Regions from separate parts of the Homo sapiens genome. Here regions 2 and 3 are each linked to region 1. Evidence: fine-mapped expression QTL. A gene starts in region 1. Each other region holds a variant in brackets. All regions are shown on one strand. Distances are from middle to middle. Region 1 holds the start of MIDEAS (mitotic deacetylase associated SANT domain protein). Region 2 holds the start of PNMA1 (PNMA family member 1). Region 3 has its middle 12 kb from the start of DNAL1.

Region 1 (10,246 bases):
TGGCAACGGTAAGTTGGATAGGGTCCTCTGTCTGCCCAACTACTGGGAAAAGCAGGGAATCAAAATCTCTCACCATTTTCCTTCTTGTCTGGATTCCAATTCCCCAGAGAAGCTGAGCGGCTTTAGAGAGAAGCCCCTTCTGGCCAGCTACAAGCCTACTGTAGCTCACTCTCTCCATCCAAGCTTTAACTGGGATAAACCTTGCCCTGTGCTTTCCCCACTCTCCTTCCTTCCCAGGACTCCTGAAGGAAGAAGCACTGCCTGGAAAAAATGCTCTCACCACGAAAGCTCCCTGCGGCTGGGAGAAAGGCAGAGGGAACAGGGAGCACCTTCCCTGGCTGGCCACAGCACGAGGCTGTGTTCCAGGAAGAGCAACAGCAAGGGCGGCTGCCAGGGAAGCCTCAGCCCCAAGCCCCGGCTCTTCCCCACCAGCTCTTCCCCACCAGCCGAGAATGACAGCCAGCAACTGCAGCCCTCAGGGAGACCCCCAGCCCCACCCCAGCACAACTCCGGCTCTCCTCTGACAGTGGCAACTTTCTTCTTATATAATTCTTGGTGTTTCCTTCACCGTTGCACATAATTTTAATGGGTAAAAGAGCCAAAGCAGTCTTTAAGGAAAAACTCCCACCCTTGGCTCTACCCAAACCTCCTGCGAGGTCACACTGCGAGGCTTCAGGTGAAGCAAACAGGGGACTTTTTTTCCTTGGCTGAGAAAGCAGCCTTCCTCCTGCCCACCCACGTGAGCAGCTCAGCCTGGGGCCTGGGCGGGTAGGTTCCTGAGAGCACAATCTGATCTCTGGGAAGCTGGGCCCTCAACCCTCGGCTGCAGGGCCACAGTCCCTCTCAAAGGCACACAGACACTGGGTCTGGGCCACATGTCTAGGGTGGAGTGGATCAAGCTGTTGTTCCCAGGGCACAATAAACTTCATTTATACAAGCTTCAGTGGCCTGGTAGATTGCTTTCCTACTATAAACAGGACACCCTTCATTTTCTCTTCCTTGATAGGAGTCAAAGGCAAACACACTGGATCCAGTGGGAACTGGTGAAATGAGAGTTGCCATCTGTTGAATACCTAGTATGTGTCATTCACTCTGCATGCATAATCCTGTCTAATCTTCACAGCCTATGAAGTACTAGTATCATCCACATTTTACAGGTGAGGCAACTGAGGCCCAAGAAGTTAAGCAATGCCCAAAGCCACACAGCAAGAGGAGATGCTGGGGTATGAACTCAGGTCTGCCCAGGCCTCATTCCCACGCACCCATCAGACTTCCTTCAGTCACTGCCCAAGTGACTGTCCACACACCATCCAGGAACGGCGTTCTGAGTGTGGAAGCAGAAGTCGGTGTGGATGAATTTTGCTGGAGGCCTCCAGAATCTGAACTGATGCTCCAACTATTATTGCTCCCAAGTGTGTGACTGCGAGAGCCCATGTCAGTGTGTGTGTGTGTGTGTGTGTGTGTGTGCGCGCGCGCGTGCGCGCTGAGGTGGAGGGAGGGTGATCTGGATTCCAAATTGCAGTTTCCAACATTAAAGTTATGCTGTAATGCTTCTGATTCATAAAATGAGCTCATAGTCTCACAGTATCCTGAATGTTGCTTCGAATGCAAATGCAGGTCCCTTAGTAAGAATTGGGGATTTCAGCCTACTCCACCCTAGCCCCGGCCCAGCATGCAATTTTTCAGTCCCAGAGTCAAGAGTTCTCATGTGCAGAAAGAAGCAATTCCTCCAACAGAATGCGGCCACTGGCTCTGCTTCCTGCCACCTGCAGTGAGTCAGGGAAGAATGGAGCCCCAGGCTGCTTCTGTACTGATGCATGCACGCCTGCACACACACAGGAAGGGTGCCAATCTGGGCTGACCAAAGGAAGTGCCCAGGCTAGCAGATCCCTAGGGAGATGGCTCCACAACTCTTTCACCCTGAGGTCCCCTTAGGGTCAGGATGACCGACACATGCACTCCACAAGGCCAGCTACAGGGCAGTGCCAGGAAACTGGGTTCACCAGCCCCAGAATCACCCACGGTGGACTGACATTTTTGAAACCAGTGATGCAATCTGAGGAGGTTCCAGGAGCAGGGACTCACTGGGCCCAACACATGACAAGTACACATTTTTTTTGATGGAGATCTTTCACTAATTTGTTCAACTAACATGCACTAAGACCAGGTGAGGTAGTTCAAGACTGTAATCCCAGCACTTTGGGAGGCCAAAGTGGGTGGATTTCTTGAGCCCAAGAGTTCAAGACCAGCCTGGGCAACATGGCAAAACCCCATATCTACAAAAATAGAAAAATTAGCCAGGTGTGGTGATGTGTACCCGTAGTCCCAGCTACTTGGGAGGCTGAGGTGGGAAGATTGCTTGAGCCCAGGAGGCTGAGATTGCAGCGACCTGAGATCGCACTACTGCACTCCAGCCTGGGCGACAGAGAAAGACCCTATCTCTAACAACCAAAAAAAAAAAAAAACACTAAACACTTACTAGATGCCAAGCAGCATTGTGGGACCCATTCAAGCAGAGGCTACCAAATACTGAAATGTGCTTTAAGCATTTTACGTATACTAACTCACAGAATCCTCACAGCAACTCTATGAAGGAGATACTGTATAGGAACTCTAACTCAGAGTCTTTGTTTTTGACCACCACACTGCAGTATGTACACAAATAACTACATAAGGTGGAAATGAGTGTTCAGAAGATGGCTACAGCCTTCAGAAGTGGCATTTGAAACAGGATTAGAAGGATAAGCTGGAAACCCCCAGCCACTTTGTGGCTGTCCCCACCCCAGCATGAGCAAAGTTTTCTTCTGGGAGACCCAAATGCAAGAGAGGGGCTCTCAACCTGAAGATTCCTGGACTGGGCCCATTCCCCTTCCCCTCTTCTGTCAGAGGTCTTGGCACCCCTGGGCAGCCTTTCTCTGGGGACTCTAGACACAGGAGGCCCTCAGCTGAATCCACAACTGCATGTTGTCTTTTCTTGTGTTCCACTTATTGAAAGCAGCAGCACACAGGGTCAAACACTGGGGCTATTTTAAAATCCCACATGTAAAAATTAAATTCTCATCCCCATGGGCACTCCAGGGCGCTCTTTCCTGGGGCGGGGTGAGGAGCTGACAGAGTCACGGGAGTGGGGGTTCTGCTGGCACTTGGAGAGGCCACACTGGCAGTGGCTAGGCTGTTCCAGAGCAAGCTGGCAAGCTGTATGACCTGGGGGCATCCTCCAGGTTCTTCACCCCCTTGTCCCCCCGGGAGCTACACGGACCAGAGTAACCAGCCAGAGGCCAATCCAATTAGAGTGGAGACTGGACCAGGGCCATGCAACGAGATGGTTTATCACAGTAATTGAATGTTTACGCTCCTATTATTCACTGTCCAGAGCAGTTGGAAAAGGAAGACCTACGAATTCTCAACCCGGGAAGGCTTCTCCTTTTCCCTGGGTTCTGAAGCCACTTAACACCCAAGGAAAGGGTGCATTTCTCTGATCCAAAAGGGGCGTGTGCCACACCTTTGGTGGGAGGCTCTAGAGCAAGACAGGTGGTTTCTCCCCTCAGCTGAGGCCCCCTAGGGAGGACTGGCTTCTCGGTCCACCTTCACTAGGCCTTCAGTCTCAACCCTGAAGCTACAGGAACAAGAAGATCCCAGATCACCTGGCCAGGCTCCCCCTGCTGGAGCAAGCCAGACATCCCCTCCCTCCCCCAGCCGCAGCTGCCAACAGGGATCCCCTGCATACGCGGGCCACCGGGGCCTCCGTGGCCAGCCTCTCTTCCCCCATCCCACCGCCCCCCGCGCGAGGCTCCACAGGCTGGCACACAGGTCCCACGTGGGATGGTGGAAACAGGAAGCAGCCACCGTAGTTGTGACCAACAAAGTTTTAAATGGGGCATATAACTTCCCCTTTCATCTTCTCACCAGCTCTCGCTGGAGGCTGGGCTGGGACGGACACCCGGCCTCCACTTTCTGTGGCAGGTACCTCCTCCATGTCGGCCCGCCTTGGGGCTGAAGCCTGAAGGCCCCAGGGCACACGAAGTTCCCCTTCCTCCCCTAGACCTTTACCCAGAGGCCTTGGGGGCAACCTGACACACATGGTCCTGCATGTGCGACTTGGGAGGCGACGTGACCAGCTCCACCAAGCCGGCCATATGCAGGGCCCGGCCGAATCCCGGGTTTCGGCGCTGCCGCCAGGCACCAGGGAACACAGCTCCCCGCGAGGCACCGCGCGGGCTGGGAGGGCTGCGGCGGCGCGGGCGTGCGGGGGCGCGCGGGAGGATGACAGGTCTGAGGTGCGCCCGCCCGCGCGAAGCGCTCCAGCCTAGGCCTCTGCTGACTGCATTTGCCCCAGTTCCCCAACGCCCCTGCACCTCTGTCCCCCAAACTCCTGGCGTGGACGCCGCGTCCAGGCCCACTTTCCCGTGCACGCTGGCAGGGGAAGGGGCTCCCGCGCCAAGTTCCCTCAGCTGGCTAGCCCCTCGCCGCGCCTTCCGGGCCTGGGCTCCGTCACGTCAGCCGGTCCCCACGGACACCACGTTTCTCTCCAGCGGAGGAGGAGCAGCCGGATTCCCGAGCCGCCGCGGGCCGCCGGGTGGGGAGGGCTTTCCTGGCGGGGCCGCGCCCGGGTGGGCGGGGGCCGCGCGCAAGCTGCGTAGCTGCACAAACACCGCGGGGCTGCGCTGCACACGCAGCTGCGGGCCGAGGGCGCGGACCGCGGGGGAGGGGGCGGCGGGCTGCAGGCGGCCCCCGCACGGCCACACGCGCCCGCTCCACCGCCGCCCAGGCCGCAGAAGTTCGAGCGCAGCGGCCCCCGCGGCCCCCTCTCCGGGCCGCGCCTGCAGAGCTGCAACCCGCCGTGCGAGCAGCCACAGCTCGCGCGCCGCCTGGGGTCCCCTCGCCGGCCCCGCCGCGTGCAGGCCTCGGCCGCCGGCCAGGCAGCCCCACTTACCCAGCTCTTGCCCGGGCTCCGGGCTCCGGGCTCGGCTGTCCCCCTTCCGCCGCGGGTCGCCGCCTTCGGTCGCCTCCGGGACTCCAGCCGCCTGCACGCACTCCCGATTTTAAAAACAAACAGGCGCCGTCGCCTCCCCGCGGCGCTCGCGGGGCTTCCGCCAGCCCGCGCCTCCCGAGGCTGAGAAGTTTGCTGGCAGGGCCCGGGCGGGACGCGCGGGCTGTCACCCCCCGCTTGCGATGCAGGAGCCTCGGCGCGCCCCGCACCCGTGCCGTCCGCCTCGCGAGCGCTCTGCCTCCCTCCGTGTCACCCCCAGTCCTGCGATGCAGTGTCAGGATTGCACGGCTCTGACTCATCGGTTGAGCTCACAGCTTGAAAAAAAAAAAAAGAGAGAGGGCGAGAGGCAACAGCGGAGGAGGAGGACTCTGGCGTGCTACAAAGGATTGCACAACTCGAGGCTGGGAGCGCGGAGCGCCCAGCGGCCGGCCGGCGCGCGCGGCACCGCGGCGAGCAGGAACCAGCTCTACCACTTCATCAGCACAACTGTCTCGGGGCGGCCTCAGCCAGCAGGCCCGGCGCCGCCCACTTCCTGCGACCAAATAAGGCCGGGGAAGGCGTCCTTAAACCTCAGGCGGCGGCCGGGGCTGGGGATTTCCAGCAGACCTCACCTCCACTCACGAGTCGGTCGCCGTCCCCATCCCCCGCCCAGGCTGGCGCCCCCGATGGCTTTGCTGGCGGGCCACGCTGCTAGTTCCTTTCACACCAAGGTCAGGAGGAGACGGTGACGAAATGTTTGGAAACCCATTGAGCCTGCCAGGAAAGTGTGTGTGTGATGCTGGGGAAGGCACAAGTCGCTTTCTTCCACAAAGAAACTCTCTCTGGTTTTGGATACGGTAAATCATGCACAATCCTCTCCATGGCATTTTATTAACAGACTCTCCGAGTTTCACTTTCTGGCTCAAAAGCGTCCTGGTGCGTGTAAAGGTTATTGAGAAACTGGCCTCAGTCCCTAGAAAGGACCCACCATCTCCATCGCTTAGGTGAGGAAAATCTCCTGGATTTAAATCTAGCAACTCAGGCCAGAGTTGAGCGGCTTTTCACTCCATACTCACATTTTCCCCTGTCTTCCCTAAATATCCCCCTGATCAATTCTCAGGTCCAGGCCTTGATGCCTCCTTGCCTGACTGGTGGGAAGATGGAAAACATTTTTGCAGCTCAAGAGGTTGGTTCTGGCCCCCACATTCAATGGGGCTCTAGGGCCAGGGGAAAGTTCAGGGGAGTGTGTCCTATTCTTCCTTCCAAGTTTTTTGGTGGTGGTGCAGTGGTGGTGGTGGCGGCGGCGGTGGTGGCGGTGGCTGTTTTTCAAGGAGATGGGTCACAAGGAGATTTTCCTTTGAAAGAAAAACCACCGAAGAATACCATGTGTCCTGGCAGCCACTTTTCAAAACACTGTGGCCAGACCTGAGAACCAGGTGCATCCCTCACTTTCTCAGGGAGAAGAGGAGGGAGGGGCAGCAGAATATGATTCTCACACACTCACTGGGCCTACAGGGCCAGGGTGGGGTGTGGAGGACACAGGCAAAACTTGGATCTTCTGCCCAGAAATCCTGCCAAACCTGCACTTGCTTCTAAGGGGGCATGGCTTTCCTGTCCTCTTCCACCTCTTTGCTGGCTGGAGCACCTGCGTACATGTACACCTGGAAGTCACACCTCCCCAAGAGGAGAAGGGCTTATTTGCACCATGTTATGATAGATATGTCAAAATAAGGAACACTTAAAACAATCTTATCTACAAAATACAGGTAATTATGCCACAGGACTGGACCAGAGGACCTCTTGAGATCCCTTCCAGTTCAAGATCCATGATTCTGTGATTACAGTAAGTGAATAGAGGAGCTAGGGAAACCACCTTCTACAAAAAAAAGCCCGGGCTCCCCGATTTAGCATCTGTGATGACAGTATTGTTCCTGGCAGCTCTCAGAGCACTTCTCCATACAGTCTCCTGAAGAGCCCTGCATGTGAGTTTTATCTCTCTCAATCTGTGGATGTACTGAGGTTCAGAGAGGTTAAGTGAATTGCACCAGGTCACAGGGCAAGCCAAGCATCTGTGACCTCTCTGCTCCTCCCCCAGAGGAAGGCAGTGAGCAATTGAGGAACTGCAGTGCTCAGGCCTGCAGACCCCCAAGCAGAGGCCAGACTCTCAGGGCTCCTGGCAAAGGATCAGGGTAGAGCCTTTTTACTTTTTTCATTTGCCTGATTTCTTCCCTCCCACTGACAACACATCCAAGTGAGGGAAGCAAAAGCAAAGCCATTTGGTCTCCAGTGCCCACTGCTGCCAAGTTCCTCTGCAGACCTGTGGCCATCCTCACCTCCCCTGAGAGCCCAGCCCCTGCAGTTGGCCTTAGGCCAGCCCAGAGTGAGCCCCTAAGAGCTTGTGCAGACCAGCCCAGGGATGTTCCCAACCAACCAGAAAACCTGACTGGGAAGCACATTGCTAGAAGAGCCTGCCATCATGGAGCCAGGGCCCAGCCTTCAGGGAACAGGTGAAAGCCACTCCAAAGGAGTGGCCCAGGAAGCAGCATACATAGTGGAGGCAGGTGGCAGGGGAAACAGAGAAGTCAGTGGCCCTGAAGGAGCCTTGCTCACCTTGGAGCGGCACCGCCCTTCACTACAGCTAAACTTCCAAATTCAGGCCACCTAAGAAAGGAGAGAGAAGAAAAGGGGCACACATGTGTGCAGGGGAGGAGGGCTCAAGACTATACCAAATAGCCCCCCCTTGGCAGGAGAAGTCTACCTCAAAAAGGCGGGCAGATGAGGCTATGTAAAGAAAGCTGCAGCGCTTCCGGGAAAGCCCTGGAGGTCAGTTTTGCTGCAGATATGACGGTGCAGAATCACTGACGTGTGAAGTGAAAGTTTTGGTTTTAGAAGCTCCAGCCCCTGCTACAAGTCTCTGGGGCAACCAAGAAGGTTGACCTTTCAGGGAAATGGGGAGGTGTTCCAGAGACCTTATCCACAGAGTTGGATTTTCTCCACCCTCAACCCTCTTTACAAACTGCACGAAAAAGGAGTACAGAGCTCCAGTTACCAGGGAGTGTGACAAGAGAGAAACACTCCAGGAAATAAAGCACCCTAGACAGAATCCTAAACTCTGATTCCCAATAAAGGTAGAATATGGCAAATTTGAGAGGCTTCCTAGGGCCACATCAGCTCTCTGGACTCCACTCAGAGCGGTCTGTCACTGCCCTGTGTTTCATCAGCAGTATCTAGACCATTAAAATCTTCCAAGGATGAGGCCAGGCACAGTGGTTCACACCTGTAACCCCAGAACTTTAGAAGGCTGAGGCAGGAGGAGTGCTTGAGCGCAGGAGTTTAGAGACCAGCCTAGGCAACGTGGCAAAACCCAGTCTCTACAAAAAAATACAAAAATTAGCCAGGTGTGGTGGCACATGCCTGTGGTCCCAGCTACTCAAGAGGCTGAGGTAGGAGGATTGCTTGAGCCCATGAGGTCAAGGCTGCAGTGAGTTGTGTTCACGCCACTGCACTCCATCCTGGGTGACAGGGTGAGACGTTGTCTCAAGAAAAAAGAAAATCTTCCAAGGGTGAATTTTATGGTGTGTGAAGTATATCTCAATAAAGCTGTTACGAAGTTGGGGGAAAGCTTCCAAGGAAGCCAGGTTCTCACCTCCCAGCCACCTTCCTCCAATAAGTCTGCAGCCATCATCACTATTTAAAAGAGAAGTGTCTTTCTCCCCAGGCTCCATACCTGCATTGCTGTCCTTTTCCCACTGTTCCTCCCCCAATGAGGCCAGCACACGTGGTGTGTTTAAGTAAACAACCAACCTTTACCAGAGCCTGGGGAACTGGGAGTACAAATATTGTTGAGGGCATCCCAAGTCCACAATGCCAGCCAGGTCCCTATGTCCCTTGTGTTCTTGTGTCCCTATTGTCGTTTCCCTCTAGAGAACTAAAGTACAACCTCCAGGACCTCATTACCTACAATTACAACAGAAAAAAAAGAAGGGTGTAGAAAACACAGGGACTTAGGAAAACTGTCACTGACCTTCCCTGAACCTCACTTTTTAGGCCCATAACAGATGCACTGTTTAAGTGTTCATTGCATGAACAACGAAAGGATGCCCACCTTCCAGGGGCTTGAGAGGATCAAAAGGACAAAAAACTGCTTTATAACTCAATCATGCTATGTACATATAAGAGGCTACAATTAATTATTTTTACTGTTTTACCCTGTATCTCCTCCCCAACCTAGGTTATCCCTTCTTAAGAACCTAGTTCCAGCCCCAGCGTCATGGCTCACGCCTGTAATCCTAGCACTTTGGGAGGCCAAAGCGGGCGGATCATCTGAGTCCAGGAGTTCGAGACCAGCCTGGCTAACATGGTAAAACCCTGTCTCCACCAAAAATACAAAAGTTAGCCAGGTGTGATGGCGCACGTCTGTAGTCCCAGCTACTCGGGAGGCTGAGACATGAGAATTGCTTGAACCCAGGTGATGGAGGTTGCAGTGAGCCCAGATTGCCCCACTGTACTCTAGCCTGGGCAACAGAGGGAGACCCTGTCTCAAAAAAAAAAAAAAAAAAAAAAAACAAAACAAAACAAAAAAAAACCACCTAGTTCTTTTCCCTGAAAAGACCCCATGGGCCTCAGGTAACCCTCTCATGGGCACTGCCTAGAGAGACTTTTTCTGGCATTGACTCAATGTCTCATCAGGGGTGTCCTCCAACGCTTCTCTCCCAGCCTGTTCTTTGTGTCCTTTCCACCACACTTTTCCACAGGGCTGTCCTCCCAGCCTGAGTAGGAACACCCCTCCACCAGCTGTGTCTTCTCAGCCCTTTTTGCCAGGTCTTTTCTGAGCAAACCGCGAGCTCACAACCACCCCAGTCATGAAGTTAAGCCACTGTGTGCTGAGATGTCTCTGCACTGTCTTCTCTTTTATCCTTGGAAAAAACCCCAGGGGACCCTCCTCCTCCGCTCACATTGACTTCACCTGTTCTGGGGCAGGGCCATGCTTGCCACACCAGCCCACAGCTGTCTGTGTCCCTGGCCCTCCCACCTGCCCCCTCCCCAGCCTCCCTGCCCTGCAGGCCTGGGCCAGGTTCTGAGTGCCTTTGTCAGGCCTGAGAAGGAGCCTCTGTACATGTCCCCAGTTGCTGCTGTCACTCTGGGAGAGACGTCTGGCCGGGTGTAGGGAGAAGGACAAAACAGGTGTGGCTGCCAGGGAGGGCAGGCCAGCAGAGCCACAGGACTGAAACGCCCTTTCTTCACAGACCGAGAGCTGCCAACTTCTCAAAGGCCTCC
Region 2 (10,246 bases), 43 kb before region 1:
TAAAGATGAGAAATAAGATGTTTGCATTGTAAAGTTGAGTAATAGCTAATAAATGCACACTTCCTTCCATTAATATAAATCTGGAACAATTTATGGTAAACAAAAATCTATCCGCGTTATCAGTAATCTAACAGTGCATACTTTTACTGAACACTTCCTGTGAGCCAGGCCTCGTAGTAAACATCTGAACATGCAATTTCACATTCAGTGTGGAATAAGAAGTGTCATAGGTTCGCGTGTTTTTCACAACTGATTATGATGTCCATGATGACAGCGTGCACTAAGCGCTGTGTCCAACCAACCCTTTACCTGGCATTTTAGCCAGCAAGACCCGCTTGCATTGCAGTCGTTCACGGTGCTCGCTGGCACAATTTTAGAATGTTACATGAATACTCAGGCCTGACTAACCTTCCCCTCCAAAAAACAACAAAACAGAACAAGGCTAAGCCTTTACTACTCAGAGACACATCTGTAAGACCCCACAGGGACAAGAAAAGTAGCTGTGATCTAGGTCTGCACTAAAGCTGCCTTTCCTGGCACTCAGAAGTGCCCTTCCAGGCCTAACTGCAGAAGGGTGGCCTCAGCCTCCTCCTCCTCCTCCTTGGCTTCCTCCTCACGGATCTGCACCAGCAACTGAAAGAGGTTTGGGGCTGGCCCTTCCCCAGCCCCGGTAAGCCACAGCTGCCTTCGGATGGCCCCGCTGTGGTTGGCCCCGGCAATGACCTGCTCTAGGCGGGCCTGGTTCACATTATCTTTATCAATGGCCCCCTTCTCTACCACCTTCTGTAGCAGAGGCTCCAGACGAATGACATAAGCAGACAATTTTTCTCCCGGGTTCTGATAAGTGTTCAGAAATTTGATCTGGGCATCCCTAGAGCTCTCAACGCTCCCAAACACCTGCTCAAGCGCCTTCAGGCATTCGGCAGTGGTTATCGCGGGGTTGTTGGACTTAAGGATGCGAATAACATCAGCGGCGGGGCCTCTAAGACTCTCCATCAACCGCCGCCTCTTTTCTACATCGGACACCTGCCACTCCTCTAGGACCTCATTAGTGTGCTCCAGCCAGGGATCAAAGGTTTCCTCTCCAGGCCCTGGGATGTCCCTCCCCGAGAAAAGTGTCAGCCTCTTGTACCATATGGACTCAACAAGAGGCTGAATAACATTATCCAAAATATAGTTTAGCATCTCTGCTGGCATCTCTGGGCCCGGGGTCGGAGTAGGGTTCTGAAACCCAAGGACACGGGCAACATCTTGCACGGTCCACCCCTCTCTAGCTAGGAAGAGGTGCAATCTTTCTAAAAATTCAGCATCAGAAGTTGGGGGCTTAAATAACACTTTCCAGACCCCTCCTTTGCCCGGCATCTCCCTGGGGATCGCGGCGTAATCTACAGCGCCAGTGAGCTCTAATAAGGCTGCTTTCGCATTTTCTTCCCTCCAGAACATTCTCCCAAGCATTCGGTAGGAGACCTGGGGCATCGCAGCCTGGAGGGTCTCTTCGATTTCAGCCTCATCACAGTTCACTGGGATGCCCCAGACTAACAGAGCTCTCTGGGAGTTCACATCCATCCCCCGGCACCAGTCTTCCAACAGTGTCATCGCCATTTTCTCAACTATCAAGACGCCAAATTCTACCAACAGACTGTGGCTCACCGTGCTCCTGGCCTTAGAACAATACCAGACACTCCCACCAAGTAGGCCCGAGGGAGGCGACCTTCATGCAGTCACGATTAACAAAGACAGAGTCCTGATCTCGCCCTTCTCTGCCCCCACAGTCAGTCCGTAGGTGCACTCGGAGCCGAGCTCGGGGACGCTGAGGCAGTCACGCGGCCGTCGCCATCTTGCGTCTGGGTCTGGGTCCGGTCGGGTCCGCCGCCTGCAGCAGGGGCGTCGCGTCGTCGTGCAGCGGGCGAGGAGCGACGGCGGGCGGCGAAGGCAGGCGCGCTGGGCCGAGAGCCGCCGGGGTGTGGTCGCGGGGCGTGGCCGCCGGGCGCTCGCTGCGGCTCCTGGAGAGGATCGGGCGTTCGCGGTCGCAGCCTGGTCTTCCCGCGGGCGAGGAGCGGCCGTTTGGGAGACTAGCCAGAGGGAGAAACTGTGCCGAAGTCGCGGCGGCTGCGGGCCAGCGGAAAGCGGCTTCTTGGCGGGCGCGGGGACTCCTCTGGGCGGGCGGCGAGGACGGCCGAGGACCAGAAACGAAGGCAGCAGAGGAGCAGGAAAGTCGGAGAAGCGAGGCTGGAGACAGCAGAGGCGAGGGTGGGAAGGGGCGGCCGCGGCGGCCCGCAGCGGTTCAGGCGCTGCGCGGCTGCTCTGGCGTCCAGTCCTACCCGCAACCCGCCGCGACGTTACTGCTGCAGTGGAGGATGGGGCCAGCCGGCGAGCGGCGTCCGCCCCGCCCCGCCCCGTCCCGCCCCCGCGGCGGAGCTGCTCGGGCGTCTCCATGGCAACGGTGTCCCAGCCGGCGCGAGGCACGCCTGCTCCGGCGGCTCGCGGGGGTCGAGCGGTTGCCGTGGAGCCAGCGAGGGGCTCGGGCATTTGTTTCTCTGATGGCGCATTTCCTTTTTCATAATTTAGCATTTTAACAGTAAACAACTACTACTAAGCACCGTGTTTTAAAAATAATAACCCAATCCTGGAGTGGATTTAAGATGATATTGTTGGAAATGCATCCCTCATGGTGGACTTGTCTACTCGGGTTGCTCAGCCAGTCCACCCTGCACGTGAAAATACTCTCCTCAGAACCCTGGCTTCCCGTTGCCCCTGACCACACTGTGCACCCTGCATATTTCATCCCAATGAAGCCAAAATGTCGGAGTGCGCCATTTCTGTGTATTTGTGTGAGACACTGAGTTTAGACTTTTTCTTGTCTAAAATTTTGTAAAAATCTGTCTGTGTCTACTGAGTCATCTTTTAGCCAGGCAAACATTAGTGTATTATTTTCCTTTTCCTGGCTGGCATCATTGACAATAGGCTGCTAAAAGAGAATCCTTATGGTTCAAAAATGTCGAGTAATCTCCCTGCAAGCAAGACAAGGCGCACTTACATCAACCCCAGATGGTGAAAATCCCAAGAGAACAAAGCATTCAACTCTGAATTTTTAAAACCTTATTTAATAAAAGGTTTAAAGATACAGAAGAACATTCAAAAGTAAATAAGTTACATAGGTACATTACAATCACATCAGCAAGATTCTTTAGTGTATTAATTTTTTTCTTATAAAAAGCACACAAAAAATAAAATCTTCAGTCTCTATCACAACTGTACAGCAAAAGAGGTAATATTTATATATGTACACTATTTTAATATGTAACAGTCTTTTTAAAAAAGGATGCCACAGGCAGCAAACACACAAAAGGCAGTGTCTGATCATTTTTGTTTCAAAATAAAAGGAATATACTTATTTATATGCTATTAAAATATCTGTACAATAATTACAGACTGTCAAGGCTGTTCCTGTGCTCTGTCCCCTCCAACAAAGCCTTCAACTTAGAGACAAATGAGGAAAAAGTGAAACAGCTGCAAATTGTTAGAAGCAAATATTAACATAGCAAAATGTGGGGAGGACACAATTGTTTTATAAAAATATCCCTACTTCCTGTAAACCTATGGAGTTAGGCTTGCCAGTCTGATAATAAATACCGTCCCAGAAAAGCGAGCCCCAGTGAAAACAACTAAACAGGCTGAGGCTTGAGTATGTGTTGTATTCCTCCTTCATCTTAACATCTGGCACATGAGAAGAAAGAGGTTAGGTCACTGAGGCAGTTAAATATAGGTGATCCCTTTAGACATAAGCAGCAGAAGACCTTGGTGCCAGGGGTGGAGGCGCGGCAGAAGGGGTGGTATGTACCTTAGCTGTGAGGGGGGCTGCTGAAGGCATGGAGGACAGTAATGACGGCTGTGCCTCCTTGGATGGTGGAGACCTCAGAAATGGTCTGCAACACAGGCACTAGGTCAGTTTCCCGCCCTTAGCTGAATGCAGATGGATGCTGGGAGATGGATATGGTGAGATGGTGTGGGGAGGATGTTAGAAAGCTGGAGGTGTTTATCACTTCTCAAGGAGCTCTGAATATAGGGGGAAAAAAACAACAAAAAGACAAGCCCAGGGAGAAAGCACCATTAAGGATATACCTATGCCAGCTTCTATAGCTGCACCTGCTTTATTGGCAGGTCACTTGCCACAATTGCATCTGCCCTCTAAACTTTTTAATTTTCACACTGTATCCTAGACATGAATGCATAAAATACAGTGTCTGGCGGGATAATGCAGAGAGGTACCATCTTGATTTTCCCCAGTTACATTCACCTGGTCTGGTCTCTGTAAGCTTAGAAGAGTAGAATCACTTTATTTTTTAAAGACTTCCGGCCAGGCACGGTGGTTCACGCCTGTAATGCCAGCACTTTGGGAGGCCGAGGCGGGTGGACCACCTGAGGTCAGGAGTTCAAGACCAGCCTGGCCGACATGGCGAAACCCTGTCTCTACTAAAAAAAAAAATACAAAAAGATTAGCTGGGTGTGGTGGTGTGTGCCTATAATCCCAGCTACTCAGGAGGCTGAGGCAGGAGAATTCTTTTAACCCAAGAGGCGGAGGTTGCAGTGAGCCAAGATCACACCACTGCACTCCAGCCTGGGCGACAGAATGAGACTCTGTCTCAAAAAAAAAAAAAAAAAAAAAAAAAAATTTTTTTTCCAAGTACAAGATGTTACCACTGACAAAAGGGTCTCATATGAATGATGGAGGTTTCTGTTACCGTATGCCCATAAAGGGGCCTGAAACCAAATATGATTTGAATAGAAAAGACCTTGGGAAACATAAGTAGCACTTTGGGGCTAAGCTGCGAAGGCACTCGTATTGTACAAGTAATTTCGAAGAGAGCCTAAATTTGCTACCCCCCTGCTTCTACAGGGTATACCAGATTTTTGCTGTCTTGGGACACTGAGCTCATGGAAGCCTGTGGAGGAAACTAACCGGTAAGCTGGGGATCTAGGTAGTCATCCAAGAGTCTGGAGGGAGAAGAAATTTGTTACTTCCACAGCTGGGGTCCTGTAGAACCATACTAATGTACAAATGGATGCTGAAAAATACCTGCATAGTTTCAAAACAAAACTCCCTCTCCACTCCCAGTTACTGACATGATGCTTCTTGGCTATCTCATAAGGAGTAGCAGTATGAATACTTTCTGGCTCCTTCCTAATACGTTGACCTGTCATACGCGCATTCACTTAGAATTTCTTTTGCACAACTAAAGTTGAATAAGATCAGAAAAATAGCTGAGCCCCGCTATGGGACTGGAAGTGAAGGGGCCTCCAGAACCTCCTGGCCCTTTCACTTCACCCATGCCAAATATGGCTTCTTCAAGCCAGAATCCAGGCCCCATAAACCAAACTAGAATTCTGGCCTCTTGCCAACTCTTCCCTCAGGCAAAGCACAGCCAGAGAAGGGGCAGCAAGAACTGCCTTAATCTCCCTTGCTCTGTGTGGGTCTGGTGACACCCTCCACCTTCCCACGCTCTTTCAGTGTTGCTATCATTCCTATCAGCAAGAGCTTCCAGAGCAACCAGGTGAGGGACCTTAGGGCCTTGGGAATTTAGGGGGTGGGGATAGGGGATGTCAAGATGCCTCGTTTTGGGATAAATGCACTCGGGCCTCTGAAAAGCAGGAGGCCCCTGGTCCCTGAGAGGATGTTAAAAATTAAATACTAAGAATAAATAAATAGCTCCCAAATGACACGAGTCAAGGAATGAAGGCTCCTGTCCAATCGAGTTAGGAGACCTCTCCCTCCCAGGGAAGGATCCAGAAATCTCCAAAGTGCAGGCCTGGGGGCTGGGTTGTGGATATCGACACTGGGTAGGGTGCGGTGGGGTTAGGTGTAGCTGCTGAGGTCAGAGCAGAGGCAAGGAGGCTGGCCCCAGGAGGGGCAGGCTGAGCCTCTCCGGGACCTGCTCAAGGCGAAGCGCCCTTGGCAGCCTCCAGGACCCAAAGGTATTCAGCCAAAAAGGTGGGAAGCAGGAAGAGCCAGGCTTGTCAAAAGCTCTCTCGGGCCTAACCCTGCAGCTTCCAGCCTCCGTACAGCTCCCTTCCCTGCAGCAGGATGAGTGCTTTGGACAAGAACGCTAGCCCCTCCCCCAACGCTGAGAAAACTTTCTAGCCCTAGCAA[G/C]GCCGCCAGCAAGCAGCAAAGGGAGAGTACCTGCCGCGGCCTCCCTCCCAAGGAGGAGGTGGCCACTCAGGACACGGTCACGGGAGCAGCTCAGACAGGCCTAGAGACTGCAGGGACAGCACAGGTGTCAGGCTGCGCCCCTTCTCAGAGAAGCCCGCAGACTCCCTCCAAGAGTTTCTTTTTCTGGGGCTTGGGGCAGGGCCGTTGCAGCCTTCGAGGTCCTCTGGGGAGGAGAAATGCTGCTCCAAAGTGGGTGAGCTTGTGCTTGGCCGGCCACGGTGGCTTCCTGGAGGCCGAGGGGAGGAGGGGGAAGCAAATAAAGGGAAAAGACTGCGGGGCAGCAGAGCAGCAGAAATCGGAGTGTGAGAGGCGGTGGAGTCCCTCCCGAGGGGACCGGGACTCTCCCGGTCCAGGAAAGCACGAGGACAGCTTCCGACAGACCAAATGCAAAGAGAGCTGGATCCTGGAGCCCTTAACGCTGCTCCCAGGGCCTTCATAAATAAAAGAGCCGTTTATGTCATTGTCTCATTTGTTTCGCAGGGAAAAGTCCCTGCAATCCTCTCCTCACTCCCTCTTGAGATGCCAGGGTGTCTGCGGGCGCTGGCGGCGGTGCGGGAAGGGCCGAGGCCCAGGACTGGGCCAGCCTGGCTCCCGCGCTCAGCCCTTGTCGCCCGCACCGCTCTCCTCCCGCAGGGCCTGCTGGTGGGCGGCGGCGGCGGCAGCAGCGGCCTCTTTCTCCTTCAGCCTCAGCGCTGCAGCCTTCTTCTCCTGCTCTGCGTGGCTCTTCATATGCGCACTGCGGCTCTTCACCTTGTAAAACACCCTGCAGCCGGGTGGGGGTTGCTCAGAACCGGCCTAGCCCACCCGGGGGCCCCCAGCGCGGGTGCGCGAGGAGCCCCAGCCTTCACCTTCACCCCCACGCTGCACAGCCGCGGCCGGCCAGCTCGCGTCATTTTCCGAAAGCTGCCCCATGACGTCACAGCCCTAGAAACCCGCTGAGCCAACCAGAAACGAGGCGGACACCGCCTGTACCTCTTCCCCCTCCCCTCCACCCCACCCCCGCCCCCTCCGCGCACCAGCCCGCGGGGGTCCCAGCGGGGACAGCGCTGCCCACCTTACCTGCCACATTTTTTACAGGGGAAAGTGTTCTCCTGATTCTGGGTCTTACTGAATGTCTCTGTTTTTTTCTTCTTCTCTGAAAAAGGTAGTGCCCTTCGTGACTTCCCTGTCCCTTCCCTTGGCTTCTCCGAGGCCTGGCCACCGGCAGACCCAGGGGCGTTGGACTCGTGGCTCCGGAGGATGAGGATGTCACTGGCCTGAAGAAAATCAAACAAGGAGAGTTGAGTGATCTGAGCAAGCGCAGATCTGGAATTCTAAAATCGCAGGGAACCGGGGGCCTGAAAAGTCATATATATTCCTGCCAAACAGTCACCTAGCATGCACTTGGGTCCTTCCAGGGATATGACGACCATTGCCTCCTCCAACTCTGCATCTCTGGTCAGCTCTATCGTTTACAAAGTTGCTGCTAGAGTAATTCTGTGGGGCAGCCCGAGCTGCTAGAGGCCTTGATGCGCCTGACAGGGGATCTTGGTCTCTGGGTTAATGAAGCACCTACCTGTTGATGTTTTCTGTCATTTAGTCCGCTCATGCCCTGTTCTATAAATGAGATTCAGGCCCCTGTGATGGGCCAGATGCTAGGGACAAAGAGGTTGACACAGGCATCCCTGCCCTCAGAGCTGAGGATCTGGTGGAAGGGACAGATGCGCAGGTAGCTACTTCAGGACAGCGCACTGCAGGGACACCAAACAGGGCAAGGGCAGGGGTCAGAGTGCAGAGCAGAGGGAGCAGAGGTGACCTCGGCTGGGGAAGCCCCGGGTGGCCATCAGAAGTGGCACCCTCATGGGAAAGTTCACAAAAGTCAACAGAACTCTGTAGAGCGCTACACAGAGCACAGCTCTTGGTGCAGGTGGTCGAGGCTCAGAAGTGGGCACACAGCCGTGTGTTTACAGTTTATGGGAGCTCTGTAAGCATGAGTGTACTACACACATTCCTTTTTTTTTTTTTTTTTTTTGAGATGGAGTCTTGCTATGTCACCCAGGCTGGAGTGCAGTGGCATGATCTTGGCTCACTGCAACCTCCGCCTCCTCCACCTCCTGGGTTCAAGTGATTCTCCTGCCTCAGCCTCTGGAGTAGCTGGGATTACAGGCGTGCACCACCATGCCCAGCTAGTTTTTGTATTTTTAATAGAGATGAGGTTTCACCTTGTTGGCCAGGCTGGTCTCGACTCCTGACCTCAGGTGATCCACTCACCTTGGCCTCCCAAAGTGCTGGGATTACAGGTGTGAGCCACTGCGCCCGGCCTACTACATACATTTCTAAAAAAAAAGACTCTAAAAAAGCAGCAGCTCCCCAATAAACCCCTTCCCCTCCTTACCCCTTTCTGGGAGAACTCTCCCTGGCAAGGAGCAACTATGGCCAGTAGTCTTGTTTCTTGGCCTGTGATATGGTGGACAGAGCACTGCACTAGGAGTCCAAGGACCTGGGGCAAGTCACTTAGCATCTCTGAACTGCTTTCCCCCATCTGCAGAGTAGAGGTTAACTCTGCAGTGTGAGGAACTAATGAGATAATGGAAATGAAAGCACTTTGCAGAGATCATGCCTGAGGGCCTATGATTGTCATTCCCATGGTCTCAGCTCAGTCTCATTCTTGTCAGGGACTCTGGCTCTCTTAGGGGAGCCCTGTCTGCAAACCACCAATGCTCCCTCAGTGACCCACATACCTACTGGGTTTTCACAAAACCTTTTTCCCTCTGAATCTCAGATACAGAAGCAGTAGAGTATAAAAATTAATCGCAGACTCTGGATTCAGGCTGCCTACTAGCTGTGTTATCTTGGGCCACAATTTCCCCATCTATAAAATGGGAATAACAGTAATACCTAACCACATAGGGTAGTGAGGATTAAATGAGTTAACAGCACAAAGTACTTCACACATTTCCTGCTATTATGATTATAATGAGGATCACAGTCCTGCTCTACCCTCCCTCCCACGCCCCCAGGCCCAGCTCCACCCTGCTTGCCCTGGGCTCAGCCCATGGTGGTCACACTCACCGACTCATTGGCCTGTAGTGTCTGCGTGGCTTTGACTGCCGCTGCCCGCCTGCTGCGCTCTCGCCCCTCTTCCTGCTCCTCCTTCTCTTGGATCTCTGGCACCTCCTCCTCCCCCTCCTTCCTGGGCTCCTTCACCTCCCTCTTGGGCTCCAGCCTCTCTTCACTTGGGGACTCTCTTCTGGGAAGAGGCACCCTTGGGAACTTTTGGGAAGTCTATGGGGAACAAGAACAAGGGCAGTGAGCCTAGAGCTCTGTCTCACTGCTGTAGCACAGATTCTGACCCGGCCGGGGGGTTCACCAGCCCCAGCTAGTCCTGCTCGCCTGGCTGGCCCAGCATAGTCTTCTGTACTAGGACTCTGGACTCTGTCCCCATGGCATAGTAGCCATGGGGACAGAAGAGTCTCAAGCCCTGGGAGCACCTGAGAGAGAACGAGGGGCAAGGAGGGTACATACCAGTCACTCCCCATTGCCACCCATCCTCCTGGACAGATGACCAGGAGGCATCCTCGGCAATGATGTGGTGAGCCAGGCAGAAGCCTTGAGTTCCAATTCCAAACTATCTTTGTAATGCTTTCTGTAGCTCTACTACCTTCCTGCCTGCAAAATGGGCAGCAAACCACTCCCTGTCTTACCGTAGCATGTCACCAAGCGTGGATTTGCAATCCCAAAAATGATGCTAGGTGGATACATGGACATAGGATTAAGTAACCTTCCCTTTTAATTCTCTTTCAATCCTGATTATGCCAAGGACTCAGTCTCTGGTTGCTGCTAATGTGTCTTTTATACTTCTCTAGACTTGATAATCTCTTTAACAAAGCAAGGTCAGCCCTCAGTCTCAGCCTTGGCAGGTAACACAGCATCTAGCTAGAATTCAGTAATACTGGTTTTCACATATATTTTTACCAGTACCTTCTATTTATAGCACACAACCTTGGTTTTCTATTTATCACTGTGATATAAAACTTCCCTTCTGAGTAAAAAATGAGT
Region 3 (10,246 bases), 130 kb before region 1:
TTTGATTTGCTGGAGTGACTCACAGAACTTGGGAAACACTTACTTCCACTTACTGGTTTACTATAAAGGATATTACAAGTGACACCGATAAGGAGATGTATAGGGAGAAAAGACACAGAGCTTCCATGTCCTCCCGGGCATGTCACTCTCCAGGAACCTCCATGTGTTCAGCTATCCAGAAGATCTCTGAACCCATTTCTGGGTTTTTATGGAAGCCTCATCATCTAGGCACGATTGATTAAATCATTGCCCATTGGTGATCAGCTTAACCCTAACGCTTTCCCTCCTCCCCAGGTTTGGTAGGTTTACAGTGGGGCTGAAAGTCCCAACAATTTTTTTTTTTTTTGAGACGGAATCTTACTCTCTGTTGCCTAGGCTGGAGGGCAGTGTTGTTCACTGCAACTTCCGTCTCCTGGATTCAAGTGATTCTCCTGCCTCAGCCTCCTGAGTAGCTGGGATTACAGGTGGGTGCCACCAAGCCTGGCTAATTTTTATATTTTTAGTAGAGACGGAGTCTTGCTATGTTAGCCAGGCTAGTCTCGAACTCCTGACCTCAAGTGATCTGCCCGCCTTGGCCTCCCAAAGTGCTGGGATTACAGGCGTGAGCCACTGTGTCTGGCTTTCAATTCTTTAATCCTGCCTTGGTGTTTCTGGTGACCAGCCCCCATACTGAAGCTACCTAGGGGCTGCCAGCCATTAATCAACTCATTAGCACACAAAAGACAACACGTTGGAGATTCTAAATCTTTTAGGAGTTGTATGTCACAAAACAAGATTACGACCAAATATATATTTCACAATATCACATAGTCATTTTTTTTAATTTAAAGAAAATTGATAGAGATGGGATCTTGCTAGGTTGGCCAGGTTGGTCTTGAACTCAGCCTCAAGCAATCCTCCCATCTCAGCCTCCCAAAATACTAGGATTACAGGCATGAGCCACTGTGCCCAGCCCATAGTCTTAGTTTTAAAAATTGCCACAGCCTCTGGGTGTGGTGGCTCACACCTGTAATCCCAGCACTTTGGGAGGCCGAGGCGGGCGGATCATCTGAGGTCAAGAGTTTGAGACCAGCCTGACCAACATGGAGAAACTCTGTCTCTACTAAAAATACAAAATTAGCCAGGAGTGGTGGCGCATGCCTGTAATCCCACCTACTTGGGAGGCTGAGGTAGGAGAATCACTTGAACCCGGGAGGTGGAGGTTTCAGTGAGCTGAGATCGGGCCATTGCACTGCAGCCTGGGCAACAAGAGTGAAACTCCATCTCAAAAAAAAAAAAAAATTTGCCACAGCAGTGGCTCATGCCGGTAATCCTAGCATTTTGGGAAGCCGAGGCTGGTGGATGACCGGAGGTCAGGAGTTTGAGACCAGCCTGGTCAACATGGTGAAACCCCCGTCTCTACTAAAAATACAAAAAAGTTACCCGGGCATAGTGGTGGGCGCCTGTAATCCCACCTACTTGGGAGGCTGAGGCAGGAGAATTCCCTGTACCTGGGAGGTGGAGGTTGCAGTGAGCCGAGATAACGCCACTGCACTTCAGCCTGAGCAACAAGAGCGAGAGTATGTTCCCAAAAAAAAAAAAAGAAAGAAAAAAAAATTGCCACAGCCACACCAACCTTCTGCAACCACCACCCTAGTGAGTCTGTGGCCTTCAAATGGAGGCAAAAATATCAGCAAAAAGATTACGACCCACTGAAGTCTCAGATAATCATTAGCATTATTTAGCAGAGGTGTGTTTTTTCATTAAGGTATGTACTTTTTTTAAACATAATGCTATGGCAACTTAATAGACTACAGTATATTATACACCTTTTATATGCACTGGGAAACCAAACATTCATGTGACTCACTTTATTGTGATATGTGCTTTATTGCAGTGGTCTGGAAGCAAATCTGCAATATCTCCCAGGTATCCCTGTATTAACAATTATTATTTCAGATAAGGAAATGGAGATCCAAGAGAAGAAACATGCCTGGTTAGTGGGAGAGCTAAGTCAGTCCAAGGCCAAAGCCCATGCCTTCACTGACCACTTGGCTCTAGTGCCTTCCAGCTTGAGGAGAGACTGGAAGAGTGCAGAGCTGCATGAAGGGGACTATAAGAAAGTTAATGGTATGTTAGGGTCACATGATGTAGCTTCACAACCCAAGGTGGAAAGTTTAGATTTTTTTTTTTTTTGAGATGGAGTCTCACTCTGTTGCCCAGGCTGGAGTGCAGTGGTGCAATCTCAGCTCACTGCAAGCTCTGCCTCCCGGGTTCACGCCATTCTCCTGCCTCAGCCTCCCAAGTAGCTGGGACTACAGGCACCCGCCACCAAGCCCGGCTAATTTTTTTGTATTTTTTTAGTAGAGACGGGGTTTCACCGTGTTAGCCAGGATGGTTTGGATCTCCTGACTTTGAGATCCGCCCTCCTCGGCCTCCCAAAGTGCTGGGATTACAGACGTGAACCACCACACCCGGCCCCAGATTACTTATTTCTTATCATTTTAAATTGGCTCCACCGCATTCCAGCTTGGGCGACAGAGCAAGACACCATCTCAAAAAAAATAAAAAATAAAAAACAAAAAAATTTAAAAAAAAAAGAAATATGATTGGACAAAAAGGGTACGTGGTGTCCTAATTAGACAAAGGGAGTCAGGCTGGTGGGAGCAGGGGAAAGCAAAAAGAAGACGCAGATAAGCTACCAGTCTGCCTTTCTTCATGGTCCAGGACACAGCCCTCCTGCACAAATAACTGATAATCTTCCTCCGCCCAACTATCACCAGACCCCTCCAAGTTAGCTCACTGCAACCTTGGTGTTATCGCTACTGCACAAATCCCTCTTCAACAGACAGCATAAACATTATTCTATAAAGTCCCCAGCAAGCCTTTGTTTCTTTGCAGTCAACTTCTCTTCTGCTGGCCTGCCTGTTGCAACGTTCTCGCAACGTATTTTCCTACTTTCTCTAATAAATCTGCCTTTCTTTACCTACAACTGTCTTGGTAAATTCTTTTACCCCATGCCACCATAGTGGTTCGCTCCCCCAATAAAATGCTACTAAGCTGAGTGGGGAAACCCAGCAAGGCCTGTCTGTCTAGATTCTTCTTGGCTTCTCTGAGCTTCATTCCTTCCTTCTGGGTGTGGGGCATGCCGGTCCCTCTTTAGAATGGGAATCACGACTTACAGTCAAATAAGGTAGATCAGATCATTTGTTTACAGCCAATTTTTACACAGAAAGGCAGAGGGAAAATTACAGTAATATTTTGAGGTTTTATCACTGGCTTTAGGGAAAAGGAGTTCTGGTTTCTATGATCTGCCTGGAAGAAAAGGGATTCTAGTTTTTATGGCTAGCCTCAGGGAAGAATGGGACTCAGAGCAGGGTGGCAGGAGAAGGGCAAAGAAAAACTTTCCCTTCTGAGGCCTTCATTTTGGGGTATTGTTCTCTGAGCCCCAACAATATTTATGGCGAAAGGACCAAAGACAGGACTTTAACAAGTCCTTGCTTTTCAGAGAAAAGTACCTTGCAGGTACTTACTTTTCAAAGAAAACAGGGTTGTTGGATGGCTCTAAACCAGAAACTCTTGGTCCAATGGCCATGTGTTTTCAGTGGCAAATACATTCTATCCAGAAATATGACACATGACAATTATTTATAGATAAATGGGATAAGATTTGAAAATGGGATTGTTTCTCCCCAAATTTAGGATTTATATACATACCCCTCTTCCTTGACAAGCAGTTTAATAAAATATGTTCACCTGGGTTAATTCACCTCATTTTACACATGCGTTTTAATTAAGATAGAATAGTAGAAAACAATTTTTTTTTTAATTTTTAGAGACCAGGTCTTGCTCTGTCACCCAGGCTGGGGTGCAGTGGTGCAATCCATAGCTCACTGCAACCTCTAACTCCTGGGCTCAAGTGGTCCTCCCACTTCAGCCTCCTGAGTAGCTAGGACAACAGGCATGAGCCACCATGGCCAGCTATTTGAAAAAATGTAGTAGGTGAAGGTAGTGGCGGCCAGGGCTGGGGTCCTGGGAGTCTAGTGGCCGCAAAGGGCATCCCAGAATGTGATGCCACTGGGTGCACAGACAGCCTCCCACATTACCAAGGGCATGCTCCCGGGGCCCTAACCTAAGACCCCAGAAGAACGGGTCGCTGCCACCAAGAAGTATAAATATGTGTGTGGAAGACTACGAGCCTTATTCGAATGACGGCATGGGGTATGGGGACTACCTGAAGCTCCCTGACCACTTATAGCAGAAGAGGGATCTGTGGTATAACTGAGACCACCTGGCCTGAGGTTGAACTGGGGATACACTGGCACCTAGACATGCATATCAGGAACCATGTAGCTATGTCCCCCACACCTGTTTCTTGGAATATCATGTGTATACAGCTCTTCGGCTCTGTGGCTTTCATGATGTTCATGTTCTGGGTGGGGGTGATTTACCCTGTCTACCAGCCCGTGGGACCAAAACAGTGTCCTTGCAATAATCTGTACCTGGAACAAGGTGGCGATCTCTCCAAAGAACCTGAGCCAGTGGTTGACTATGGATACCAGGAGGCTTTGTGGGCTTTTGCGCCCTCTAACTAAGACTCCCTCATTCCTATAAATTTAACCTTAATGAAATCCCTAATAAAACTCAGTGCTGTGGTGGTTTAAAAAAAAAAAAAGAAAAGGAAATTTGTAGAGA[T/TG]GGGGGTCTCGTTATGTTGCCCAGGGTGGTCTTGAACTCCTGGCCTCAAAGTGATCCTTCTGCCTCTGTCTCCCAAAATGCTGGGATTACAGGCATGAGCCACCATGCCTAGCCGGAAAACAAATTTTAAATTACATATATCAATACTTTCTTCACTGTGAAAGATTCAAGTAATACAGATAAAATAAAAGGTCCTCTTAACTCATTACCCAATCTCAGTCTTCTCCCAAGGGTAGTTACTATTACCAGTTTGAAGTGTTTCCTTCCAGAACCATTCCAGAACCATTTTGTATATATATACAAAATACAATATTCATATGTATGAATGAAAAACTATGGTTTTATTTTGTGGGTTCAAGGCCTTTTCTCTCTCTTAAAAAAACAGAAATGTAATATACTTGGCTGGGGGCAGTGGCTCATGCCTGTAATCCCAGCACTTTGGGAGGCCAAGGCAGGGGGATCACCTGAGGTCAGGAGTTCAAGACCAGCCTGGCCAACATGGTGAAACCCCATCTCTACTAAAAATACAAAAATTAGCCAGATGCAGTGGTTTGCGCCTATAATCCCAGCTACTAGGGAGGCTGAGGTAGGAGAATCACTTGAACCCGGGAAGTGGAGGTTGCAGTGAGCCAAGATCACGCCATTGCACTCCAGCCTGGGTGACAGAGTGAGACCCTGTCTCAAAAAAAAAAAAAAAAGAAGAAGAAGAAATGTAATATACTTGTAAGCTTTTCTTCTGCATACAAAAAATATACATTGTTAACACTTGTTCCAGTCCACAGGACAATAGAACTTATTTCCTTAGGGTATATATCTGTAATTCAGCTTTCTCTCTCTCTCTCTCTCTTTTTTTTTTTTTTTGAGATGGGGTCTCATTCTGTCCCCCAAGCTGGAGTGCAATGGCACAATATCGGCTCACTGCAGCCTCCGCCTCCCGGTTTCATGCGATTCTCTCGCCTCAGCCTCCCGAGTAGCTGGGATTACAGGTGCCTGCCACCACGCCTGGCTAATTTTTGAATTTTTAGTAGAGATTTGGTTTCACCATTCTGGCCAGGCTGGTCTCGAACTCCTGACCTCACGTGATCCATCCGCTTCGGCCTCCTAAAGTGCTGGGATTACAGGCGTGAGCCACTGCGGGCTGTCCTGTAGTTCCACTTTCTGAATGAAAAAGCAAAATTTATGCTCCCTCCTGAGCTCATCCCCTATGTCCCCGCTGGGCTCGTTTTAGGTCTTTGCTGGCATTCAAGTTGGGGAAGTGTCTCTCCACCAGTTTCTATTATCAATCCCTACTATTTTATAGTTCAATTCAGTATCTCATCGGAAACGTTTAAACTTTAACTTTGATAGTCTTTCTTAATCCAGGACAAAGATTACTTAAAACGGAGGAAAGGAATTTGTTAGGACCCTAGCACACTTGGCCTCCTTCAATCAGGCTTAGGGAATATTGACCCCTGGTGGCCAGTGAGGAAATTCAGAGGCGGCCAGAGGCCGGCACTTACCGTTAAAAATGCTTAACTTTATTCGCCACACGTCCGGGGTAAACTCGCGAGGGGATCCTACCTCTTCCAGATGGTTCCACACGGGACCTCTAGGAGCTCAAAGGACCCTGGGCCCTCCGAAGTCGTCTCTTCTTGCAGCCCGTTGCTAAGTGGCGCCGCAGGGACCAGCCCAGGTCCCATCACGTGGCCCTGCAGGGTTTTGCCCCACAGGGCCACGACCTGCCAGGCCGGGCCCCCCTCCTCCCTCCTCTTCAGCGCGGAACCTCGGCCGCCAGTGCCAGGCCGCCTCGACCTTGGCGGAGGTCAAAGCCGCGACAGTCCCGGACCATGTGGCCGGCGGTCCGGGCAGCGCTCCGAGCCTCTGGGGTCCCCCTCCAGGCCTGGAGGCCGATATCCACATCGTCCTTTTTCTCCCAAAAGGCCGCGACCCTGACCGTCACGCCCAAGACTGGGCTGGCCGACAAGTGCCTGGATATGAAAGCAGAAGGCTTGGGCTCGGGGGAGCCGGTGACCCTGCAGGTGTCGGGCGTCAGCCACCGAGGCCGCCTCTTCCACTCCCTTGCCCACTACGAGGTGGACAGCGGCGGGGGGCTGGACCTGGCCGGGGACCTGGCTCTAGGAGGCGACTTCACGGGCGTGGGGCCCATGGGGCTCCTGTGGAGCCTCATGCCGGCCGCTTCGAAGGATCCACGCCTCAGTCGAATGCGGAGGGCCGCCTTGAAAAACCCCCTCATAGTGGAGGTGACCATCCACCTAACGCCGCTGCAGCAGGCGGCGCCGCTGAGTCCGGCGCTGGCCTCGGCCCAGGTGCAGCGCTGGTTCTCCATCCCCGAGCTGCGCCGCGCGCCTGCGAGCCGGCCGCCTGCGGGGGGTCTTCCTGCTGCCATCAGGTGCGGGGGCCCTTTTCCGCAGAGTGCCTGACAGCAGAGTGAGGGAATCGACTGGCTTGCTTTGCTAGCTGGTTTGTCATCTGAAAACAAAGCGAGCTCCTTAATCCCTTTATTTTGTCTCCTAGACTTCAAGTGGAACATTCATTCCCCTAGATGGTGGCTAGGATCCAAATTTCATCTGCTTATGCACCTTTCTTCTGCCAGCTGCTCACCCGCCAGAGTCCTAGTGCTGCATACGCTATTCCTTAGGAGCATAGACCCTGCGTGTTTGCTATATTAAGCATAAGATTGCTGCAAAGTTTCTAGCATTAAATGCTTTTGTTTGCTTACAGCAGTCTCAACCTCCTGAGCCCAAGCGATCCTCCCACCTCAGCCTTCAGAGTAGAGTAGCTGGGACAGCAGCCATGTGCCACCCAGGTAAATTTTTTTTTTATTTTTTGTAGAGACAGGGTTTCCCTACGTTGCCCAGCCTGGTCTTGAACTCGTGGGCTCCAGCGATCCTCCCACCTTGGCCTCCCCAAGTGTTGGGATTACAGGTGTGAACCACCACACCCAGCCATCTTTCTTTTTTAAATTCTTATTTTTTTAGAGACTAGGTCTTGCTCTGTCACCCAGGCTGGAGTGCAATGGCATCATGATAGCTTATTGCAGCCTCGACCTTCTGGGCTCAAGTGATCCTTCCACCTCATCTTCTCAAAGTGCTGGGATTACAGGCGTACATGGCCTCATTTTAACCTTTTTGTTTTTTTAGAGATAGGGTCTTGCTATGCTGCCCAGACTGGTCTTGAACTCCTGGCCTTAAGCAGTCCTCCCACCTCAACTTCTCAAAGTACTGGGATTACAGACACACACAACTGAGCCTGGCTTTATTATTATTATTATTATTATTATTATTATTATTATTATTATTATTATTTGAGACAGGGTCTCACTCTGTCACCCTGGCTGGAGTGCAGTGGCACTGTCACGGCTCACTGCAACCTCCCTTCCAGGGCTGAAGCGATTCTCCCACCTCAGCCTCCCAAGTAGCTGGAACTACAGGATCTCACCACTCTGCCCAGCCACTTTTACTTTAATTGGAATAACAAAGGAATATATCTGAAAAATACCAGGAAACAATTGGCCGATAAATTCTTCTCTTGGAATAGTGAAGGAATAAAACATCCCCAACAGGACTGTTGAAAGAGAAATAATAGACCAACGTTGGGAGGATATTAGTTTGACATTTTACTATCTCTTCACACATGTAGTTCATTTTATAGTACACCTTCATTAGACCTTTAAAACAGTTTAATCCCTGTCAAATTATGGATTCTGGTGACTCTGACTATATCTTAAATTTATTGAGAAATCAAAGGGCCCTTTAAATTTGGATGTCTGGGTTTGTTTTTGTTTTTTGATTCTTTGTTTGTTTTTTGAGACGTAGTCTCACTCTGTTGCCCAGGCTAGAGTGCAGTGGTGAGATCTCAGCTCACTGCAACCTCCGTCACCCAAGTTGAAGCGGTTCTCCCACCTCAGCCTCCCGACTAGCTGGGATCACAGGCATGCACCACCACAACCAGCTAGTTTTTTGTATTTTTAGTAGAGATGGGTTTTTGGGGTTTCACCATGATGACCAGGCTGGTCTCGAACTCCCGACCTCAAATGATCTGCTCACCTCGGCCTCCCAAAGTGCTGGGATTACAGGCATGAGCCACTGTACCTGGCTTTAAAAATCTCATGCTAAAAACCAGACATCCAGCCGGATGCAGTGGCTCACGCCTGTAATCTCAGCACTTTGAGAGGCCGAGGCGGGCAGATCACCTGAGGTCAGCAGTTTGAGACCAGCCTGGCCAACGTGTAGTGAAACCCCGTCTCTACTAAAAAATACAAAAATTAGCTGGGCATGGTGGCACACACCTGTAGTCCCAGCTACTTGGGAAGCTGAGGCAGGAGAATCGCTTGAACCTGGCAGGTGGAGGTTGTAGTGAGCTGAGATCGCACCACTGTACCTTAGCCTGGGCAACAGATCAAGACTCCGTCTCTCAAACAAACAAACGAACAAACAAAAGCAGACATCCGGCCAGCACGGTGGCTTACCCCTGTAATCCCAGCACTTTCGGAGGCTGAGGTGGGTGGATCGCCTGAGGTCAGGAGTTCAAGACCAGCCTGGCCAACATGGCAGAAACCTTGTCTCTACAAAAATTAGCAGGGTGCAGTGGGGCACAAGAATTGCTTGAGCCCGGGAGGTGTGGAGGTTGCAGTGAGTCCAGACTATGCCACTGCATTCCAGCCTGGGCTATGGGAGTGAAACCCTGTCTAAAAAAAGAAAAAAAAAAGGAGATTTTTATTCTTACATAACTCAAAGCTTGCAGAACTATTTGCTTAGACTTATCAGGACTTGTACTTCAAACCAAAACACTTCCCATATATTTGGTGCGATTTTTCTTTTTCTTTTTTTCCATTTACCAGTGATTAACTCACAGGGAAAAAAATATAAAAATATTTTTACATTTATAGAATCAAAATAGCTCAAATAAATGTCTATTTCAACCACAATAATAAATCCATTTCCACAAAACAGATGTTTTCTTTTCAAAGCAAGTAGGTAGTTTTTTTAAAAAAAGATAAATTATACAATCTAATTTTCATTTAGAAAATGTTGGCTAGGTAAATGTTCTGTCATCTAACCCAAGATTCATTCCCTTTCCTGGGTTATAGATGATGGTCCTTTTGCTGGTCTCATTGATATATTTGGTGATGGAGGATTAAGTGAATCTTGAGCAAGTCTCCTGGCTTGTTGAGGTTTTGCTACTCTGCTTTGCCATTTTTTGGCTATGAAGATCTACCTCCAGCCATGAAAGACTTAAACTTAGATTACTTTGAAGAGGCAGTTAAATTTGTGCAAAGTCACCCAAAGGTGAGTGGTATGAGAGAAATGAATGAATTACTCCAGAAGAGAGTGAATAAAGGAAGTGTTACTAATGGGTTGGAAAATACCTGCAACAAATACCTGTTGAATTAATAAATAAATACTAGAGCTGTCTGATAACTCTAAAAAACTCATAAAAGACTTTCTGGCCAGGCACAGTGGCTCACGCCTGTAATCCCAGCACTTTGGGAGGCTGAGGTGGGCGGATCATCTGAAGTTGGAAGTTCAAGATCAGCCTGATTAACATGGAGAAACCCCATCTCTACTAAAAA

Evidence for each region. PIP is the estimated chance that this variant, and not a neighbour inherited with it, causes the effect.
Region 2: its variant is fine-mapped to the expression of MIDEAS in whole blood (TOPMed, PIP above 0.99).
Region 3: its variant is fine-mapped to the expression of MIDEAS in whole blood (TOPMed, PIP 0.98).

The regions. Positions count from the first base shown.
Region 1 is chr14:73,754,830-73,765,075 of GRCh38, forward strand. It overlaps MIDEAS (mitotic deacetylase associated SANT domain protein), which reads right to left and starts at 5,474. Exons shown (of 13, transcript NM_001367710.1): 1 at 4,934-5,474. MIR4505 (microRNA 4505) reads left to right here and starts at 3,918; the gene lies at 3,918-3,990. RefSeq lists enhancers at 1,671-1,750, 3,442-3,491, 5,552-5,881, 6,797-7,319, 7,320-7,841 and 3 more and silencers at 1,537-1,831, 4,142-4,251, 4,612-4,761, 4,892-5,131.
Region 2 is chr14:73,712,038-73,722,283 of GRCh38, forward strand. It overlaps PNMA1 (PNMA family member 1), which reads right to left and starts at 2,347. Exons shown (of 1, transcript NM_006029.5): 1 at 1-2,347. The coding sequence starts at 1,602. The coding sequence ends at 541. It overlaps MIDEAS (mitotic deacetylase associated SANT domain protein), which reads right to left. Exons shown (of 13, transcript NM_001367710.1): 11 at 9,260-9,472; 12 at 7,268-7,464; 13 at 3,085-6,971. The coding sequence ends at 6,806. RefSeq lists enhancers at 1,743-1,802, 2,743-2,812, 6,778-7,388 and silencers at 1,893-2,062, 2,243-2,522. The variant G/C (reference allele first, on the strand shown) is at 6,149.
Region 3 is chr14:73,627,488-73,637,733 of GRCh38, forward strand. It overlaps a transcript of HEATR4 not described here and the pseudogene NDUFB8P1. Among named protein-coding and RNA genes, the nearest start is that of DNAL1, 12 kb to the right of the region's middle. RefSeq lists an enhancer at 5,841-5,890. The variant T/TG (reference allele first, on the strand shown) is at 4,675.